Linked DNA regions of Homo sapiens. The protein of the gene in region 1 interacts with the protein of each later gene in a pairwise test. Each region holds a gene or a part of one and is shown on either strand. Other genes may lie near its edges. The genes, in order: RASGRP4 and TMPRSS4.

Region 1 (10,986 bases):
TGTATTTTTAGTAGAGATGGGGTTTCACCATGTTGGGCAGGATGGTCTCGATCTCTTGACCTCGTGATCCACCCACCTCGGCCTCCCAAAGTGCTGGGATTAGAGGCATGAGCCACCACCCTTAGCCTTAAAGTGTTTGATTTTGTAGGTCTGGGTTGGGACCTGAGAATCTGTATTGATATCCAGTTCCCAGGTGATGCTTTTGGTACTAGCTGGGTGCCCACACTTAGGGAAATGCTGACTTAGTTAGAATGCTCCTTCCTTAGCCTAGGACATATATAATACTTTAAAATGTCCCTTCTAGTAACGATGGCTCATGCCTCTAATCCCAGCACTTTGGGAGGATAAGACAAGGAGAACTTGAAGCCAGGAGTTCTAGACCAGCCTGAGAAATATAGTGAGACCCCCCCCCCCATTGACACACACCCAAACACACACACAAAATTAGCTGGGTATGGTCGTGCACACCTGTAGTCCCAGCTACCTGGGAGACTAAGGCAGGAGGATCACTCGAGTCCAGGAGTTCAAGGTTACAATGAGCTTTGATTGCACAACTGTGCTCCAGCCTGGGAGACAGAGCAAGACCCTGTCTGAAAAAGGGTAGAGGTGGGAGCCTGGCGTGATGGCTCACACCTGTAATCCCAGCACTTTCAGAGGCAAAGGTGGGAGGATCAGTTGGGCCCAGGAGTTTGAAACCAGCCTGGCCAACATGGTGAAACCCCATTTCTACTAAAAATACAAAAATTAGCTCGGCGTGGTGGCACGTGCCTGTAGTCCCAACTACTTGGGAGGCTGAGGCAGGAGAATTGCTTGAACCCGGGAGGTGGAGGTTGCAGTGAGCTGAGATCGCACCACTGCACTCCAGCCTGGGTGACAGAGTGAGACCCTGTCTCCAAAAAAAGAAAGAAAGAAAGAAAAAAGAAATCCCTGGAGAAGGTCCAAGGACTATCCTCATTTTTCCTTCGAGGAAATTGAGCCCCAGAGAAATTAAGTGACTAACACGAAGTCACAACAGCTGGCAAAAATTTCTGGATTCTACTTTCGTCTGAAGCTTGGATTCAGCAGCCTCCCTGCTCCCACCATCCTTGTCTCTCCATTACCCTCTTCCCCTATCAGGAACAGCAGCCTCTGGGAGGCACCAGGCAGAGGGAGAATTATTATTACTATTATTACTATTATTATTATTATTATTTTGAGACTAAGACTCGCTCTGTTGCCCAGGCTGGAGTGCAGTGGCACGATCTCGGCTCACTGCAACCTCCGCCTCCTGGGTTCAAGCAAGTCTTCTGCCTCAGCCTCCTGAGTAGCTGGGATTACAGGAGCCCACCACCACGCCTGGCTAATTTTTGTATTTTTAATAGAGATGGGGTTTCACCATGTTGGCCAGGCTGGTCTCGAACTCCTGACCTCAAGTGATCCACCCACCTCAGCCTCCCAAAGTGCTGGGACTACAGGCGTGAGCCACTGTGACTGGCCTCTCTTTTTAATTTTTTTATTATTATTTTTGAAACAGAAATCACTCTGTCACCCAGGTTGGAGCACAGTGATGCAGTTCCGGCTCACTGCAGCCTCCACCTCCTGGGTTCAAGCGACCCTCCTGCCTCAGCCTCCTGAGTAGCTGGGATTACAGGCGCCCGCCATCACGCCTGACCAATTTTTGCATTTTTAGTAGCGATGGGGGTTTCACCATGTTGGCCGGGGTGGTCTCGAACTCCTGGCCTCAAGTGATCCACCCACCTTGGCCTCCCAAAGCTTTGGGATTACAGGCGTGAGCCATCACACTGGTCCAAGAGCCTTGCTCTCTTGAGGGCTGTGGGAGGAAGGAGGGGAGGGTGTTAGAGACCAAACGGGAGCCCTGAGGAGGCAATTCCTGAAGGCAGGTCCTCCCATGCCTCTGCCTGGGGAGGACAGAAGAGATTCCAGGGGTCTTCTCCCGAGTCCCTGGTAGGCCAGGAGTAATCCTGGGATCTGCCAAAAGGAAGTCTCTTCCAGGATGCCCTGGAAGCAGTCAAGAGGAAGTTGGGGGCAATGCCTGGGGAAGGAGTTCTTATGATTCCCTGAGGGGTCTTGAGTGGTCCCAGGGGTCTTCTACTGTGATTCCCTGGGAGATTCAGAGCAGTCCTGAGCGGCGGTCCCCAGGCTTTTTGGCATCAGGGACCAGTTTTGTGGAAGGGGGTGGGGATGGTGTGGGGATGATTCAAGTTAATTACATGTATCCTGTGCTTTATTTTTATTATTATTACATTGTAATATATAATGAAATAGTTACGCAGCTCACCATAATGGAGAATCAGTGGGAGCCCTGAGCTTGTTTTCCTGCAACTGGATGCTCCCATCTGGGGGTGATGAGAGACAGTGACAGATCATCAGGCATTAGGCATCAGGCATCATAAACAGCACGCAGCCTAGATCATCAGGCATCATAAACAGCACGCAGCCTAGATCCCTCGCATGTGAAGTTCACAATAGGGTTCATGCTCCTAAGAGAGTCTAATGCCCCAGCTGATCTGACAGGAGGTGGAGCTCAGGCGGGGGTGCTTGCTTGCCCGCTGGTTCCTAACAGGCCACGGACTGGTACCTGTCTGTGTCCCAGGGGCTGGGGACCCCTGGTCTTGAGGATCTTCCTCTCTGATTCCCTGAAGGGAGCAGGAATATCCCTGGGAGTTTGCTTGTGGGAGAGGGCTCCCATGATTCCCCCAGGGATCTGGAATATTCCTGGGGATTCTCTCTAGAGTCCCTGGTAGGTCAGGGGTAACCCTGGGGCTTTGCCTTTAGGAAGCCTCTCCCGTGGTGCCTTGGGGCATTAGAGTCAAAAGGAATTCTAGGGTCTGTCCGAAAGAAGGTGCTCCCATGACTCCTTGGGGGCTGTGCCCACAGGAAGTCCCACCAGGAATGCACCGGAAAAATAGGAGGGCGAGGCCGGCCCCGCCAAGTGCGCCGCCACAAGACATGCCCCAGCCCTCGGGAAATCAGCAAGGTCATGGCTTCCATGAACCTGGGCCTGCTGAGTGAGGGCGGCTGCAGCGAAGATGAGCTGCTGGAGAAATGCATCCAGTCCTTCGGTAAGTGTCCTCTCCCCAGCAGCCTCCCTGGCCCTAACCTCGGGCTCAGCACTCGCTTCTCTCCACCTCAGTTTTTGGAGGTAAAATGAGAACAGGGCTGGGTGGAATGAAACTCAATCACTACATTAGAGATAACAGAAACACCTGCATTTCTTCTTTCCTGAAATGGAAATATATACATTTATATATATATATAATATATGTGTATATTATATATATTTATATAAATCTTTTTTCTTTTCTTTTCTTTTTCTTTTGAGACAGAGTCTCGCTCTGTTACCCAGGCTGGAGTGCAGTGGCCTGATCTCAGCTCACTGCAACCCCCACCTCCTGGGTTCAAGAGATTCTCCTGCCTCAGCTTCCCGAGTAGCTAGGATTACAGGCACATGCCACCAGGCCCAGCTAATTTTTGTGTTTTTAGTAGAAACGGTGTTTCACCATGTTGGCCAGACTTGTCCCGAACTCCTGGCCTCATATGATCCGCCCGATTCAGCCTCCCAAAGTGCTGGGATTACAGGTGTGAGCCACTGTGCCCGGCCAGTCTGGTGCTATTTCAATCTTCAGCAAGACTTGCCAGGGGTGATGCTGCCCCATGCACAATACAGATAAGGAAACTGAGGCACAGGAGGTTAGGTTGCCTGTCCAAGGTCATGCTGGGGATCACCGTTAGAGCTGGTCTTTGAACCAGGTGGTCCGGCAGGATCTGGAGCTACGCTCTGCATTGCTTGAGGGCCATTCTGTCACAGAGTACCCCTCCTTCCACCCCAGATTCAGCTGGCAGCCTGTGCCACGAGGACCACATGCTCAACATGGTGCTGGCCATGCACAGCTGGGTGCTGCCGTCCGCCGACCTGGCTGCCCGCCTGCTGACCTCATATCCTCCAGGACTGTGAGCTATGGGTGGAGGGCAGAGGGCAGAGTCGTGAGAACCTGGGCAATGGGAATGGGGAGCAGGCAGGTCATGGATCCTGGAAAACAGAGCCTTGACCAGAACTCAAATACCAGAAGGCCACAGGGGACACCCAGGAGCTGAGACGGCTGCAGATCTGTCACCTGGTCAGGTAGGGCTGGGCCGAGATCCCCACTCTCAGGACCCACGACTTCCATCCTGCTTCCCCCTCAAAAAACATTCCTCAGAGAATCCCCAGGCCAGTTCCCACAGACCCAACCAGCCCCACAGGCCAAAATCCCACTTCTGAGACACCTGTAGCTTGGTTCCTAAGACCCTCTTAGTTCCGTTCCTTAGAACCCCCACTTCCTAGAGACCCCCCTCACCAACCAGATCCCATAGACCCTCCTAGCTGGTGCCCAGAGACCTCCAACTCTGATCCCCAAAATCTCTACCTCCCACAGACCCCAGCCTAGCCCATAAGACCCCCTCATTCTGTCCCTCCAAAAATTTCACCCCCGGAAGCCCCCAGTCTAGTTCCTAGGACGCTCCACGATCTTGCTTCCCAATAATCCCACTTCCAAGTGACTCCCCGGTCTGTTTCCCACAGATCCCCCCAGTCTCTGTTAAGAGACCCCCATCCTACTCCAGAGATTCTCCAAGCCTGGTGCCCCTCCAAACCCCAACCCTCCAGGGACCCCCACACACATTTAGAGACCCCCTAGCTCAGCACCTAGAAATTCCTCAGCCCAAAATACCCCTTGTAGAGACCTTCGCCACCCCCGGCCTCATCTCACCATCTCCAAACCACTCTCAGGTACTGGCTGATGCGACACCCTGAGGTGATGCACCAGGATCCCCAGCTAGAAGAAGTCATAGGTCGTTTCTGGGCCACCGTGGCCCGGGAGGGCAACTCAGCCCAGAGAAGACTGGGAGACTCTTCTGACCTGTGAGTCAGCCCTGTGCTCCCCTCTTCCCTGCCCCATCGCCATTCTGCCATCTCCCTCTATATCCCCAAGCCCTCAACTGTGAGCCACTCCAATACCCTGCCCCTCTTGGCCCCCAGCCTGAGCCCTGGTGGCCCTGGCCCCCCACTCCCAATGAGCAGCCCAGGCCTGGGCAAAAAGCGCAAAGTGTCCTTGCTTTTCGACCACTTGGAGACGGGGGAGCTGGCTCAGCACCTCACCTACCTGGAGTTCCGGTCCTTCCAGGCTATCACGGTGAGGACCCCCTCCCATCCCCGTCCCAAGCAGGGGAGACACTGGGGTAGGGGAGGGATTGGCTGGGGGAAGGTAGGACTGAGAGGACACCTGCATGGTCATTCGGCAGAGATCTCAAAGTCTTAAACTCAAACCTGTATGCTAGAAGGTCCAGGAAAATGAGTTAAAGAGGCCAAGGCAGGCAGATCGCCTGAGGTCAGGAGTTTGAGACCAGCCTGGCCAACATGGTGAAACCCCATCTCTACTAAAAATACAAAAATTATCCAGGTGTGGTGGTGCATGCCTGTAATCCCAGCTACTTGGGAGGGTGAGGCAGGAGAATCACTTGAACCTCAGGAGGCGGAGATTACAGTGAGCTGAGATCACACCACTGCACTCCAGCCTGGGCGACAGAGCGAGATTCTGTCTCGAAAAACAACAACAACAAAAAAGTAAAATAAATAAATAAAAGGCTTATTGCAGCGACTGGCACTTAGTAAGTGCTCAAAATATTTTATCATTTATTCAACAAGCATTTAAATTCATGGTGCCTCAGTTTCCTCATCTGTAAAAAGGGGATATGCACAGTTCCTGCCTTGCAGGAACAGTGCCTGGTCCAGGGTAAATGCTATCTGCTTGAACCATTTGAAATTGTCATATATTACCTACCCAAGGATCAGTTTCATGTGCTTCAACATATATATGCATTAGCTTTTGCCATCTGGACATCATCATTTCAAGGGAAGGTGGGGATCTGTTTCCTTCATGTGAAACTGTCCCGATTGTATGTGTGTGTTGTGTGTGTGAGTGTGTATGCAAATATACTCAGTGTAGTGGATGTGGGTATGAAATGAACACTCCTTGGGCAGAACAGATAGAGGTTGATTTCAATTCATCTTCCCCAGCCTTCCCTTTGCTTACTGTATACCAGTCAGGTGTACAGTTAAGAGCATATAGACGCCCACCCTGACTCACACCTGTGTGACCCTGGGCAAATTACCTATCCTCTATGTGCCTCAACTGTCTCACCTCTAAAATGGAATGATACTCACCTCATAGAGTTATGAGGATTAAATTATTTAATATGATTACTTGTCAAATATAGTGCCTGGCTATATTGAAACATGCCTCCTCAGATGGGAGAGGAGCATGGTGACGTTAAGGACATGTAGCAGCCTGAGGGTTGGGGGACAGATGACAAAGGTCACTCCGGCTAGACCAGGCTAGGACATCAGAGATCGTGACTGCTAGTTGGATGCCATGGAAGGGCAGGGCCTGAGCGCCACGGCCCACCTTGACACCCACCTCGCTCCCAGCCCCAGGACCTGCGGAGCTACGTTTTGCAGGGCTCAGTACGAGGCTGCCCGGCCCTGGAGGGCTCCGTAGGTCTCAGCAACAGCGTGTCCCGCTGGGTGCAGGTGATGGTGCTGAGCCGTCCCGGGCCCCTACAGCGTGCACAGGTGCTGGACAAGTTCATTCACGTGGCACAGGTGAGGCCCGCCCCTTGGGGCTGCGAACTCCACTGCACGCAGCCACCTGGTCCTTCCCCTTCCAGACCCTCGACCCCACAGGGTCATCCCGGCGGTGACGTCACGCATCTCCCGGCCCCGCCCCCGAGGCCACAGCCTGGGCATTCCAACCAAGGACCGTAACTTCTTCTTTGGCCTTGATGTCACCGCGTCGCACCCACCGTGGCCCCACCCCTTGGCCCTAGACGTGACAGGCTCCCAAGCCCTATGCCCGAATATTCTATCCCCAGGTCAATGAGAGTGTCTCTTCCATGCCCCCACCTTTGTGGGGCATGGAAGCCCGAGGCTTCAATCCCCAGTCCCCAGGCCCCAGCGGTCGCTTCGGGATTGTGCATCGCTCCCCATTGCGTCCGGGCTCTCCCCGCCCCGCCCCATTGTGTTACGCCCTTCTCTTCCCCTCCCTTCCCCCTCCTTTCCGGACACCTTCTCGCCCTTCTGGGGAAAAGGGAAGCCCTACGGCCCCGCTGTGGCCGCGCCCCCTTGCGTATTTCCACGCAGACCACGCCCTTCCTCTGGTGTCTTCCCTGGCTTGCTTACTCCTGCAGGGCCCCTGAGACCTGGGGGTCTCGACGTCCGCCTGGGGTGTCCTTAGTCTGAGCATTTTCCATTCCTCCCTGGCCCCACTCTCTCCACAGCAACCTCTGCCGAAATTTGTCAAAAGGAGGGCAAGGGAATTCCCCAGCTGCCCTGGTGGCCCCACACCTGTCTAGCATCTGTCTGACTCCTCCATATCTCTCTGGCCCTATTCACCTCTGCCTGGCTCCCAGCTCCTGCCCAGAGCCTGCACCTTCTTGCCTCCCCGCACCTGTGTGACTCTCAGAGCAGTCAGACCCCCAGATGGCTGACACCCTGACATGTCTGAAGCCTCCTCCACCTGACACACACCTGTCTATTCCCCAAATCCGCCCAACTTCTCGTACTTCCTGTCTCCCCAGATTTTCTAACCTCGTATCAGTCAATCACTTGCTTGACCCTCCCGGCTCAGATAGCCATCTGACACCCCTGTGAGGCCCACACATGGCATGTCCCACTCTTGCCGCACACACCCGCCTTCTCTCACCTGTCTGATCCCCACATTGGTCCACACATGCCTGGGACCCCACCTCAACTGGGATGCTGTCATCTGAACTCCTGACTTGCCCTCCCTCCCGTGACGGCCCTGTGTGCATGCTTCTCTTCCTAGAGGCTCCACCAGCTGCAGAATTTCAACACGCTGATGGCAGTCACAGGGGGCCTGTGTCACAGTGCCATCTCCAGACTCAAGGACTCCCATGCCCACCTGAGCCCTGACAGCACCAAGGTGAATCCCACTACCCTCCCCAAAGCTCCAAGTGGTCAGCTGTCTTGAGCCCCCACACCTAATTCCCCAAGCCCTGTCCATTCCTGCCCAGGGGTCCTGGTACCACATGAAGTCCTTGCTCCTCCAAATCCCAGACCCCCAGGCTCTGCCAGCATTCCTCCTCCCTGTCATCCATCCACTCATGGTGCTGATCCCTCTCTGCTTTCAGTGTGTCTGGTCCGGAGCTGGACTGTGAGGGAGACAGATGGGAGACAGGCTAGCAGAGAACTTTGCAGTCCCCATGGGGAGGACTGGCTGAGGTCAGAAAGTGGCAGGAAATTAAGCCGAAGATGCCCTGGGAAGATCCTATAGCGCCTTGTAAGATGGGCTAAGCTAGGGAAGTTTTGAGAGTGATGACACACCCTTGATAAAATCTGGGTTTTTAAGAAATAATTATAGGCTGGGTACAGTGTGGCTCACACTTGTAATCCCAGCGTTTTGGGAGGCCAAGATTGGAGGATCACTTTAGCCCAGGTGTTTCAGACCAGCCTGGGCAACATAGCGAGACCCCATCTCCAGAAATTTTTTTTTTTTTTTTTTTTTTTTTTTGAGACAGAGTCTCGCTCTTGTCGCCCAGGCTGGAGTGCAGTGGTGCAATCTCGGCTCACTGCAACCTCTGCCTCCCGGATTCAGGTAATTCTCCTGCCCCAGCCTCCCGAATAGCTGGGATTACAGGGGTGCACCACCATGCCCTGCTAATTTTGTATTTTTAGTAGAGACAGGGTTTTACCATGTTGGCCAGGCTGGTCTCAAACTCCTGACCTAAGGCGATCCACCCACCTTGGCCTCCAAAAGTGCTGGGATTACAGGTGTGAGCCTCCGCGCCTGGCTGAAAAAAAATTTAAAAATAAATTAGCCAGGGATGGTGGCCCATGCCTGTAGTCCCAGCTACTTGGGAGGCTGAGGGGGAGGACTGCTGGAGCCTCCCCCTCAGCCTTTTCATTGTTGTTTTTTGAGACAGAGTCTCACTCTATCTCCCAGGCTGGAGTACAGTGTCGAAATCTTGGCTCACTGAAGCCTCCACCTCCCAGGTTCAAGCGATTCGCCTGCCTCAGACTCCCGAGTAGCTGGGATTACAGGCCTGCACCACCAGACCCAGTTAATTTTTGTATTTTTAGTAGAGACAGGTTTTTACCATGTTGCCCAGGCTGTTCTCGAACTCCTGACCTCAGATGATCCGCCTGCCTCGGCCTCTCAAAATGCTGGGATTACAGGTGTGAGCCACCGTGCCCAGCCATCAAGCTCAGGAGTTTAAGGCTGCAATGAGCTGTGATCATGACACTGTACTCCAGCCTGGGTGACAGAGTGAGACCCTAGCCTAAAAAATAAATAAATAAAAAGGCCGGTCTTGATGGCTAACGCCTGTAATCCCAACACTTTGGGAGGCCGAGGCAGGCAGATCACCTGAGGTGAGGAGTTTGAGACCAGCCTGGCCAACATGGTAAAACCCTGTCTCTACTAAAAATACAAAATTAGCCTGGCGTGGTGGCTCAATGCCTGTAATCCCAGCTTCTTGGGAGGCTGAGGCAGGAGAATCGCTTGAACCCAGGAGGTGGAGGTGGCAGTAAGCCGAGATCACGCCACTGCACTCTAGCCTGGGCAAGACAGCAAAACTCCATCTCAAAAAAAAAAAAAAAAAAATCAAAAAGAAAGAAAGATAAAAGAAATCATTTTAGCCAAAGAATGGGGGATTGTGGAACTTCTCTGAGATGGGGACCCAAGAGGAAGAGCAGTTTGGGGGAGATGCTGAGACCGGCATGGGATATGGAAGGGCTCCAGAGGTTTCCACAATGCCACTGGGTCCCTGAAGGCCTAGAGCCCACACAGGAGGCTGCTCAGGGGATGGGACTGTCCTGATAACGCCCCAATCCCATGTCCCTCCTCCCCAGGCCCTCCTGGAGCTCACTGAGCTCCTTGCCTCCCACAACAACTACGCCCGCTACCGCCGCACCTGGGCTGGCTGCGCGGGTTTCCGGCTGCCTGTACTGGGCGTGCACCTCAAGGACCTGGTGTCCCTGCATGAGGCACAGCCCGACAGGTTGCCTGACGGCCGCCTGCACCTACCCAAGCTGAACAACCTCTACCTGCGGCTGCAGGAGCTGGTGGCCCTCCAAGGGCAGCATCCACCCTGCAGCGCCAATGAGGATCTGCTGCACCTGCTCACGGTGAGCCCCCCTGGCCCCGCCCAGGCTGGGCTTCCAAGGGTACTGAGATATAGGGTCCTGGGTGTGTGAGTGTCTCCAGGACCAGGATAGAAAAGTGCTGGAGTGCATGGGTTTTGAAGCCAGAACTTCTAGGTTTTTTTCTAGCTGCGTGATCTTGGGCAAGTCACTGAACCCTTAAGCCTCAGTTTCCTTATCCACAAAATGGGAATAATAAAAGGACCCAGCCGGGCGCAGTGGCTCACGCCTGTGATCCCAACACTTTGGGACGCTGAGGTGGGCAGATCACCTGAGGTCAGGAGTTCGAGACCAGCCTGACCAACATGGAGAAACCCCGTCTCTACTAAAAATACAAAATTAGCCAGGAGTGGTGGTGCGTGCCTGTAATCCCAGCTACTTGGGAGGCTGAGGCAGGAGAATTGCTTGAACCCGGGAGGTGGAGGTTGCAGTGAGCTGAGATTGCGCCATTGCGCCATTGCACCCCAGCCTGGGCAAGAAGAGCGAAACTCCTTCTCAAAATAAATAAATAAATAAAAATAAAATAAAATAAAAGGACCCACTTCAGAGGGTGGTTGAGGAGAGACAGCCAATGACATCGTTCAAAGAATGTCTTTAAGACAGTGTCTAGCCGGGCGCAGTGGCTCATGCCTCTAATCCTAGCACTTTGGGAGGCTGAGGTAGGCGGATTGCCTGAGGAGTTTGAGACCAGCCTAGGCAACATGGTGAAACCCCATCTCTACTAAAAATACAAAAAATTAGCCTGGCATAGTGGCACACGCCTGTAATCCCAGCTACTTGGGAGGCTG
Region 2 (10,986 bases), on another chromosome or scaffold:
GGCTTGGAGAGACCCAGAAAAAGAATATGACCTGCCCAAGGCCACACATCAAACTAGTGCCAGAGCCAGGGACAGAACCTAGATCATGAGGACTCTTAAAATGCACTCTAGTCCTCCCAGGTCTGAGACTTGGGTCCTTCCAGGAAGTGCCAGCATTCCTGCCTGAGAATGTGCCAATCCACCAGTATTGCCAATGACTCAGCCCTCCATGGAGAGCTTCTACTAACATTACTAGCATAGTTAGGGATGGAAGGAAAAGATTTAGAAGAGGCAGATTCAGTAAAGGAACAATCAGAGAGATGGAATTAATCAAGGAAGGCTTCCTGGAGGAGGAAAAACTTCAACCCAAGGTTTGAAAGTAGCAAGCATGGATTAGCAGGGAGAAAGAGGGAGAGTGGTCCAGTTGAGAGAAACGTTTGTCTGGATTCATATGAAGACAGATCTAGTCCTGTTCTATTAAATATCTCTAAGGGGGCCAAAAACATACCCCCGCTATCAAAGTCAGACCAGATGCTTTGTTTGGAGAACGAAATATCCACATTCCAACTCCCTCCCAGGTGAGAAGGGAGCTAACCTGAGCCCCTATGCCTCTTTGTTTCCCTGCTGTGAACCAGAAGACATTGCTGGGATATTTGAAATAGGGACAGAGCTGGGAATATGGAAAGGAGACCCCTAACATTTCTCCAGGGCTCTGGGTTCTGGATTTGGATTCCCCACCCAAGAAAGCAAGTTACATCAGCAATGCACTGAGGGTTGAGTCCTGGGATGCCAAGGGTCGGTTCTTTATTGTATAGCAAAGCAGGCCCCATCTTCACTGACTAAGACCATCTCCACTCCCTGGCCACTCCCCACCAAGCATTCTCTGCCACTCTTTCTCCTGAAAGTGGGGGCCAACTCTACCATCTTGTTCTAACCCCCTGCCCCAGCTCACAACTCTCTCTCCCTCTTGATGTGAGCAGCAAACCCACTTTCAGAGCTGTGGAGATTGGCCCAGACCAGGATCTGGATGTTGTTGAAATCACAGAAAACAGCCAGGAGCTTCGCATGCGGAACTCAAGTGGGTAAGTGAGGGGACACCTTCTGGCCTACAGAAGGCCCCCACATGGACGCTGCTCTTCAGGTTGCAACCAGCTCACCTGGAACCCCAAGCAGCCAGGGGAATGTAAGCAGACATCAGGAAGAACTCCTAGCCAGATGGATCATTCAATGCCAAGAGCTATAGACTCACATTTTGGAGAGGTTTTCTGTGTTGACTTGTTTTTAATACAATGGACAGCTGGACAAAGTGTGTTGTCCTACTCAGAGCCAGAGGGATGGATAATGTGACCTTTCCATCAATCTGGATAGTAAATAGTTTTTGCTACTGCTGTAGGTTTTCTAATAAATTGCCCAATAGGCAAGATTCCAAAGTCACTTTGTCCTTCCCTACCACTTACCCAGCCAGAGCTCCCCACCTTCTTGATGCTCCAGGGAAGAGGCTCCATGGCCCTTGTGGGTGGCCTGTTCCTGAGCCTCGCCACCCTGTGTTAGAGCAGAGCATCCAGATGAAATCTGTCACACTGTGGCAAAGTGGCTCAGAGAGGAGGCTGGCTTCCTAGCATTCAGGGACGTTGCTGAGGGCCGCTTATTCACCGAAAATAAATCTTGAAAAGGACAGGGCTGGTAGCAGAATGATCCTTTACCTAAAATTCTATCAAAATCCCATTCTTCCATTTGGAAAGCCCACAGTGTCACAGACTCTGTTCCGGGCTCTGTCCTCTTCCCTCTTGGGTCCCAGGAGCCCAGGCTGGGCTTTGAAGCAGGCAGGGCCCAGCACACAGTAGGTACTCAGCAGTGGGGGTGTTGAATCCAATCAAACGGAAGTGTCAATGCAGGAAATGCAATGGATGTCAATGCAGTCTCCAAATGTTCCCCACTGTGCAGCTTCCACATTCCCGAGGTATTGGGAGGGGACTTGAATTAACAGCTTCGGGAGGCCTGAGTCCCTGCCTCCCAGCTGAGGAAGAAGCTTAAATCACAGGGCGCTGTGTCTGTCTTCCAGGCCCTGTCTCTCAGGCTCCCTGGTCTCCCTGCACTGTCTTGGTGAGTACCCCCAATCTCTGAGGGTTTGGGGCCTGGGCCAGCAATGAGCAGGGAGGAAGACCTTCATCTTCACTCCTAAATTTCTGGGACTCCAAGTTTCATTCTGCCTTGGTCTACAGCCCTTGGGCTTGTCGGTCAATGCCCCCTCGAGTTGTTGGTGGCCTTGGGCAGGTCACATTCTTTTTCTGGGTCTTTCCAAGCCCCAGTTTCCCCCTTCTACCATCTGTGCATGGCTCCATGACCTAAGTGGAGACCTGGGAGAGAGTGTTAGGAAGACCGAAAAGGGCAGGACGGGGCCTCCACTGCCTCCCATCCCTGGTCCGGGCCCACATAGCCTTCTTTGTCACAATCAGCTCAGGTATCCAAGATCAGATTACCCACATTCATTATTTGAGCAACTATTCATTGAACAGTTAGAATATGTCTCACTCTGTCAGTTGCTGGCTAGAAGTAGAAAGTACCAGATGAGTGAAATAATTGGCCACTATCCTTGGTAGCTGATGACTAAGTAAGAGAGAGATGCAAGACAACATGTGGAAAATGCCAAACTGAGTAGCAGTCACAGTTGACATGCTGCAGAGAGAGCTGGCCGGGGGTCAGAAGACCTGGGCACCAGTCCTGTTCATTTCCAGTGTGGCCTCGAGTCATTCACCTGACCTCCCTGAAGTTCATTTTCCCAAGAAGTTGTTTAGTCCAACTGCCCATCAAGGATCTTTAGGGACCCTTCTAGCTCTAACAGAGGAGATCAGAAAAGAAAACAAGCAATGTGGCTCAGCTCATCCTACAAGCTTCATAGAGAACTGAGACTGGCCTGGAAGCATAGCCAGAAATTAGAACGCCTAAGGGAAGAAGGTCACAACGCTGCCTCTGCAATTTAGGAGTGTATATGCTTTCCTGCAGGATGTTGAGAGTTTCATTCATTATCGTATGCCCCCTACCCCGGCCCCACAATACCTAGTGCGTGGGATCTGACACGTGGTGGCTGGTCAATGAATGAATGAATGAATGGTCACACCATCTGAGGTTCTGCACTGAGTAGCCCTGAAGGCTTGAAGCAGCATAAGTGACAGGTCCTCCCTTGAGGGGCCTCTGTTTTACCAATAAGCCAAGACCTAAGCTCAACAACACTGAAAGGGTGGCCAATACCCAGGACAGCCTGTGGGAATTCCAGAGAAAGGGAGATTCCCAGGGACTGGGGGCCCAGGCTAAACACTGAAAAATGCATCTGTAGGCTCAAGGAGGAAAAGCCCATGTCTGTCTGTCTTGCCCACCACTCTCTCCCAGCACCCAGCACTGCCCCAGGACAGAGAGCACTTGACACAAGTTGGTTAGATTAATGAATGATTTAGAGTTCAGTGGTCCCCAACCTTTTTGGCACAAGAGACTGGTTGCATGGAAGACAATTTTTCCGCAAACCAAGAGGGGGATAGAGAGCATTAGATTCTCTCTTTTTTTTTTTTTTGAGACCAAGTCTGGCTCTTGTCACTCAGCCTGGAGTAAAGTGTTGCGATCTCGGCTCACTGCAACCTCCGCCTCCTGGATTCAAGCGATTCTCCTGCCTCAGCCCCCTAAATAGCTGGGATTACAGGCACCCGTCACCAGCCCAGCTGGGACTATAGGCATGTGCCACCATGCCCGGCTAATTTTTGTATTTTTAGTAGAGACGGCGTTTCACCATGTTGGCCAGGCTAGTCTCGAACTCCTGACCTCAGGTGATCTGCCCGCCTGAGCCTCCCAAAGTGCTGGGATTACAGGCATGAGCTGCCTCACCCAGCCTAAAGTCTCATAAGGAACGTACAGCATAGATCCCTCACATGTGCAGTTCACAATAAGGTTGTGCTCCTACAAGAATCTAACGCCACCTCTGATCTGACAGGAGGTGAAGCTCAGGTGGTCATGCTCGCTTGTCCCTGCCACTCACTTCCTAATGTACAGCCAGGTTCCTAACAGGCCACGAACCAGTGGGAAGGGCATCTTTTTGGATCAAAAACAGAATTACTTTTTAGAGAACTACAAGCAGATCAATTTGGCTAGACAGAGACTTTATATGAAACAGCAGGAGGCTGCTAGGAGGAGTGGAAACTCTACTTTGCCCTCAAGGGAGATCCCGAAGGGCTTTGCAGGAGCGGGCAAGGTGGCATGAAGAAAGCAGTGTTTGAAATCAGGTGGTATTTGAAAAGCCCAGCCCTTCCCCTTAGAATGGCCCTTCTACCATCTGTGCATGGCTCCACAACCGTGGTGGTGGCTGCCAGAAGAATTGGAAAGGCAGAGCATGGGTGGAGAGGGGGGACCTGAGGGCTTTACAGGAGTTCCGGGGGTGGTGAGGGTGTGAAAGCCAGGTCAGTCAGTAGGAAGACAGGATGTCAGATTGAGAGACTCCCCTGGCCGGGGAAACAGACTTGGAGAAGGGGGAGTTTTGGATGAGACAGTCCACTTCCGAGTCACAAAATAGCTTGTGGGTGTCTGTTTACTGTTACTCAGTGGGAGTGGCTGGGGACACGCCACCTGGGCAGGGCTTTCGTAATTCTGCATCACTTGTGAAGGTCACAGATTCCCAGCACAACGGACACACCCATGTTCATAGTCTGAACTCCTAAACACATCTTAAACCAAAATAAAAAAAAAAGAAAGAAAGAAAGAAAAAGGAGAGGGAGGTTTGAGGAAAGCCTATGGTCTGGGACACTCAATACCTCCCATGAATATCTCATATTGGGCTGGTCCTCTCTCCACTCTGGCCCCAGCCATAAGGGCCCTGCTTAGAGCAGATTTTGGGTGCTGAGTGGAGGCAGCCTCATCCCCAACAGCCTGACTTCCTGCCTCCTCCCTGCCTCTGCCTGTGTCCAGCCTGTGGGAAGAGCCTGAAGACCCCCCGTGTGGTGGGTGTGGAGGAGGCCTCTGTGGATTCTTGGCCTTGGCAGGTCAGCATCCAGTACGACAAACAGCACGTCTGTGGAGGGAGCATCCTGGACCCCCACTGGGTCCTCACGGCAGCCCACTGCTTCAGGTAAGACCCCAGCTGTAAGGAGGTCTCTGGGGACCAAGGCCAGTCAGGGACCAGAGAGCTTGGGGTCCTGTCTCCTGGCACCGTCCTTCTCTTCACTCTCCCACTAGAGACGTTTTCCAGGTTGTGGTGGCCCCAATGAGACAATGGCCATGATGCCCTTTGTTAGGCTTTTGGGTGTCTGAGCAGAGGGTGCTGGTCACCAAGCATGGCCTCTTCCTGGTGGGACACCAGCAGATACCCAGAGTCCTCACCCCACCCCCATATCGTTCAAGCTACAAAAGCTCTTCCCACCTGCCTCAACTTCCAAGAACTCACTCTCTTTTTGCTTGTTTCCAGGAAGTTGTTCCAGGGTCTAGAGTCATAGCCACGTCCTCATTATGTCTGGAAACTTTAAAAAAATTAAAGAGCATAGGTTCCTTTCAGTCCACAGAGAAGCCTGGCCTTACCTCAGGGAAGGGCTACTCCCAGACCCCCTTCACTTTTTTTTTTTTTTTTTTTTTTTTTTTTTTTGAGACAGAGTCTTGCTCTGTTGCTTAGGCTGGAGCGCAGCAGCATGATCTTGGCTCACTGCAACCTCCGCCTCCTGAGTTCAAGCAATTCTCCTGCCTCAGCTTCCCAAGTAGCTGGGACTATAGGCATGGGCCACCATGCCCGGCTAATTTTTGTATTTTTGGTAGAGACAGGGTTTCACCATGTTGGCCAGGCTGATCTCTAACTCCTGACCTCAAGTGATCTGCCCACCTCAGCCTCCCAAACTGCTGGGATTACAGGCATGAGCCAGGGCATCCGGCTTTTATTTATTCATTCATTCAATATCTAATGAGCACCTACCAGGTACCAAACACCAGATGATGCGCCCAAGTTCATTAGACCCCACCGCTGTCTTCAAGGCACTCATGATCTAGGCCAGCGTTTTTTAACCACTTTTTTTTTTTTTTTTTTTGAGATTCTGGTGAGAGCTATAAATTCTTTCCTGGAAAAACATCTCTGCACACTAAGCTGTGCCTGGCATTGGGAAAAAGAAAGCACGTAATGTAACTGACAGCATGAGTAACACAGTGAGAAAGGTTGGAGGAGAGAGCGCCAGGACCTCAGAACTCAGGCATTAGAGGAGCCCCTTCCCCAGCCCTCCTTGAGGTTTCGTTGGGCAGGTTTCACTGAGGAAAAAGGGTCAAATCCCTTTTTCGAATTTGACTTCTTGTAAGTGCCAGAAGACTGCCCCTTCTCCACCATCCCTGCCTCACCATCATCTTTCCTCCCAAGGCAGTGACATCCAGCACCCCGATCCCTAGGGCCCTGGGGACCCAGCCTTTGGCAAAGTCTCCTCAGGCTTGGATCAGGCCTGAACCCAGCTGTCTCTACCCCCAGGAAACATACCGATGTGTTCAACTGGAAGGTGCGGGCAGGCTCAGACAAACTGGGCAGCTTCCCATCCCTGGCTGTGGCCAAGATCATCATCATTGAATTCAACCCCATGTACCCCAAAGACAATGACATCGCCCTCATGAAGCTGCAGTTCCCACTCACTTTCTCAGGTGAGAAGCAGGGCCCAAGGCCACTCAAGCCTCTTACATCAGTTTTCACGCCCACTCTGCTATTAGCTCACTGACCGCCCTTGGCACATAATGTCTCCTCTCAAGTCCTCAGCTTGCCCATTTGTCTCTAATACGTCAGCCTAACATCACTGATGCCATGAGGCCTCCTCAAGCTGTCAGCTAACACCTCCACTCCATTCCCTGCCAGAGATTCTTCCAAGGCCTGTCTTCCCTATGTGGAGCCCCTCGAGTGAGAACTGGAGTTTCATCCAATCTTGGAGTTTTAGGAGACCTTTTAAAAAGATTATCGAGCTAATTCCCCACCACTGACCAACACGCAAGAGCCTGCTCAGTATCCCTGCCAAGGAGTCATTGTGCCCCTGTTTGCTCTCCTCCAGGGGCAGGGAACCCATTACCTGTGAGGCAGCCCACAGAGTCTTTGAACAGCTCTGTTGGATGCCTTGTGCTTATACTGAAATGTATTTAGATCAGGATTCCCAACTGTGGGGTCCACAAGACACTGGCCCCTTGGAGAAGAGAGGATTCCATTGTCAAATAAGTTTGGGGAACATTTTCATACTACAGCTCCCTTCTTGGAACACATTAGTTTATTAAAGGTAGGAGAAGTTTTTAAAATAATCTGTTTTATTGCGTTTAACCTACATTTTTTAAATTTATTTGACCACAGAATCCTTTTTTCATGCTACTTCTATTAGCATCCCATAGAACAAGTGTTCTAGAGACCCTGGTGTGACCCCTTTCAGAGAGCTTAACTGCCAGGCTCTCCTGAGCCCTGGTGTGTGTTTCAAGATTTGTGCCTGGGAATTGTTTTAATCAGGTATGGCAAGGTGACAGATACAGACACAGCTATCTTTGAAAGAAGAGTTTATTATTTATAATTCCTGAGAGAAAGGGACATACCCCACCCCCCAACACAGGGACACCCGGGGAAGCAGCTGGGTCCACCAGGAGGCAGGAGTGAGGGGAAGGCATGGCCCAGAGCCACCTGTGGCTTCCATGGGCAGGTCTGGCCAAGGTAGGGTAGGCAAGATTGAGCATGCTCAGGATTGGATAGTGTGGACAATTCTCTAGGCTATAGATGTCAGCCTCTGGTTGTCTAGTATCTGTCCCTGGGGTGATTTAGGGCAGGGAAAATATTGGCTTGGTGTCTGAGAGTCAGATAAAGGAAGTGGTTGGGGATATGGGCTTTGGGTTGGCTGGTTTGCCTATTAAAGGCGTGCCCAAAGCCAAGTTGTTTACTATCTGCAGGAATTAGCTAACCCAGTCTCTCCCAGACCAGCAAGATCCCCATAATCATAAAGCATCATAATTTACAGAAAATTAACACTTATGATGAATAAAAGATCTCCTTCTTCCTCTGTGCTCCTGGCAGGCACAGTCAGGCCCATCTGTCTGCCCTTCTTTGATGAGGAGCTCACTCCAGCCACCCCACTCTGGATCATTGGATGGGGCTTTACGAAGCAGAATGGAGGTAAGTCCTGGGTGCAGGACCACAGGGCAGGAGATGCCCTTGTATGAGGGAGCAGCTTCCAGAAGTAATGGGAAGGAGGACCACCCTTCAGAGAAACCCATCCTGGAGGACCAAGCACCAAGGCGCCAGGCAGAAAGCAAAGTGGTTTGGCAATCCAGGGCTGGGGGATAGAAGGCAAGGATGGGAATGTGAGTGTTTTTACCCTCCCAGGGAAGATGTCTGACATACTGCTGCAGGCGTCAGTCCAGGTCATTGACAGCACACGGTGCAATGCAGACGATGCGTACCAGGGGGAAGTCACCGAGAAGATGATGTGTGCAGGCATCCCGGAAGGGGGTGTGGACACCTGCCAGGTGGGGCCTCCAAGAATCATGGGGAGTTCTAAGAATAGGGTTTAGGTCCTAGAGAGATGAGAAAACCCAGAGGCTGCATGCCCTACAGGAAGCCTTGCATATCATGGGCACTCAATGTGTGATGATGGGAGGAAGAGAGGGAGGGAAGGAAAGGATAGTCAGATAAAAGTGTACCAATAGATGAGTGGGTGGATGGATGGATGCAGACAAGCAGAGAGATTTCAAATGTCTCTTTCACATTCGAAGATGATGTTACTGGCCTGGCATGGTGGCTCACGCTTGTAATCCCAGCACTTTGGGAGGCTGAGGCGGGCAGGTGATTTGAGGTCAGGAATTCAAGACCAGCCTGGCCAACATGGTGAAATCCCATCTCTACTAAAAAGAATACAAAAATTAGCTGGGCGTGGTGGCACGTGCCTGTAATCCCAGCTACTTGGGAGGCTGAGGCAGGAGAATTGCTTGAACCCAGGAGGCAGAGGTTGCAGTAAGCTGAGATTGCGCCACTGCACTCCAGCCTGGGTGACCCAGCAAGACTCCATCTGAAAACAACAACAACAACAAAGATGACATTACTCATCCACCCCACCCACCCTTCTCACTAGCTACAGAATGATTAGCCCCTTGAGGTCAGGAATCCCAGGTCTATTTTCTCTGTGACTCTCCCCAAGCTGCTGAACTACACTAGGAAAGAATTACCGCCTGCAGAATGCTGGAAGCACATCTGTGTGTGCCCTCACCCCGGCCTCATTGGCCATCAGGACTGCTTAGCAATCCCTGTAGACCTTCTTCCTCCCCCATACTTCCAGAGGATCTTCTGAACTATTTTCTTTTTTTATTTTTTCTTTTATGTTTTTTAACAGAGACAGGGTCACTATGTTGCCCAGTCTGGTCTCAAACTCCTGGGTTCAAGGGATTCTCCCACCTCAGCTTTCCAAAATGCTGGGATTACAGGCATGAGCCATCGTGCTTGGCCTGAACCATTTTCATTAAAACCCCTACCCTACTCTCACCTCCATTTCCAGTCATTAAATTCCTTCATTTAAGAGGCATCTCTTAGTCATCGCATGTGTGCCATGAACATGGTAGTCTTTGGAGACCCCTCAGGGAGCTCACAGTGGTTGGGGGAAAGGGGGGCATTAAACAGACATTTAAGCTATAGTTTTGGGTTCAGAGGGAGGAAGCCCCAGGGGCTAAAACAGCTGATAAGGACTCCCAGATAAGTGCACTTTTCACTATCTGGCATTTTCTTGTTTTGTTATTTGCTTGTTCACTGTCTCTCACCCCATTTGATCCTAAGCTTTCTGAGGGCAGGGATCTTTGTTTTTTTTCATCAGTTGGATCCCAATTGCTTAGAACACTACCTGGCACAAAATAGGCACTCTATAAGTGATTACACAAATTTTGGAACGACTAGGTTAAACAATGATAACCAGGCTTTTTTTTTTTTTTTTGAGACTGAGTCTCACTCTGTTGCCCAGGCTAGAGTGAAGTGGTTTGATCTCGGCTCACTGCAGCCTCCGCCTCTGGGTTCGAATGATTCTCCACCTCAGCCTCCTGAGTAGCTGGGATTACAGGTGCCTGCCACTATGCCCAGCTAATTTTTGTATTTGTAGTAGAGACGGGTTTCACCATGTTGGCCAGGCTGGTCTTGAACTCCTGACCTCAAGTGATTCACCCGCCTCAGCCTCCCAAGGTGCTGGGATTACAGGTGTGAGCCACCGCTCCTGGCCAACAACCAGGCTTTTTTAAGACATCACTCAGAGCCTTTAATTTGCTAATGTGAGTTGTGAATCTCTGAGAGAAGGCTAACGGCATGCTTGCAACTTACTTGTCCACAGACAAGCCTTTCTGCCCCAGAAGAGAAGACCATTCTAGGGTGCTAATGAGCAAAGAGGGTGAGGGTGGAATATCGGAGAGCAGCAGGGAGTGCAGGGGAACAGATAGGCCAGTTCAGGGAGCAGAGAAGGAGAAGCCCCCCCACCTCACCTGCCCTCCCCAGCAGTCTCTGTTCTGGTCTCTCACAGGGTGACAGTGGTGGGCCCCTGATGTACCAATCTGACCAGTGGCATGTGGTGGGCATCGTTAGTTGGGGCTATGGCTGCGGGGGCCCGAGCACCCCAGGAGTATACACCAAGGTCTCAGCCTATCTCAACTGGATCTACAATGTCTGGAAGGTAAGGTACCTTTGCCCTACCCACTGTGCCTTCCCTCCAGTCCTCTACCTGGGGGGTGCCAATCCATCCTCAGGTTTGATTTAAATGGTTCTGACAACTCTTTACATCCCAAATAACTTTCCCTCCAAGCAAGGGACAGCCTGAGATTGCACTATTAAGGCTGAAATTCCTTAGGTCAGAGATTTCTGATAAATGCAAATACCTTAGGGAATAGAACACACCAAGCCTTTCTTTCTCTTTTCTGACAGAATGAGACTATCAGATCCTTTCTAGAGAGAAGATTCTGATAAGGAAGAGAGTGGAAAGGCTCATGAGACCTCCTGGCCCTCTGCAGGGTAGGGAGAGA

Evidence for each region.
Region 2: the proteins of RASGRP4 (region 1) and TMPRSS4 interact in binary tests that used the Homo sapiens proteins (3 or more experiments, as listed by UniProt).

What each region holds. Positions count from the first base shown.
Region 1 is NC_000019.10:38,414,045-38,425,030, reverse strand, and holds part of RASGRP4 (RAS guanyl-releasing protein 4), read left to right. Parts: intron 1-2,877; coding exon 2,878-3,062; intron 3,063-3,830; coding exon 3,831-3,936; intron 3,937-4,060; coding exon 4,061-4,123; intron 4,124-4,768; coding exon 4,769-4,900; intron 4,901-5,017; coding exon 5,018-5,171; intron 5,172-6,466; coding exon 6,467-6,640; intron 6,641-7,862; coding exon 7,863-7,979; intron 7,980-9,907; coding exon 9,908-10,183; intron 10,184-10,986.
Region 2 is NC_000011.10:118,106,815-118,117,800, forward strand, and holds part of TMPRSS4 (transmembrane protease serine 4), read left to right. Parts: intron 1-959; coding exon 960-1,061; intron 1,062-2,041; coding exon 2,042-2,082; intron 2,083-3,237; coding exon of another isoform or gene 3,238-3,419; exon of another isoform or gene 3,420-3,583; intron 3,584-4,926; coding exon 4,927-5,086; intron 5,087-6,454; coding exon 6,455-6,621; intron 6,622-7,108; coding exon of another isoform or gene 7,109-7,236; exon of another isoform or gene 7,237-7,251; intron 7,252-8,014; coding exon 8,015-8,113; intron 8,114-8,323; coding exon 8,324-8,466; intron 8,467-10,490; coding exon 10,491-10,640; intron 10,641-10,986. UniProt on the Homo sapiens protein: Plasma membrane-anchored serine protease that directly induces processing of pro-uPA/PLAU into the active form through proteolytic activity.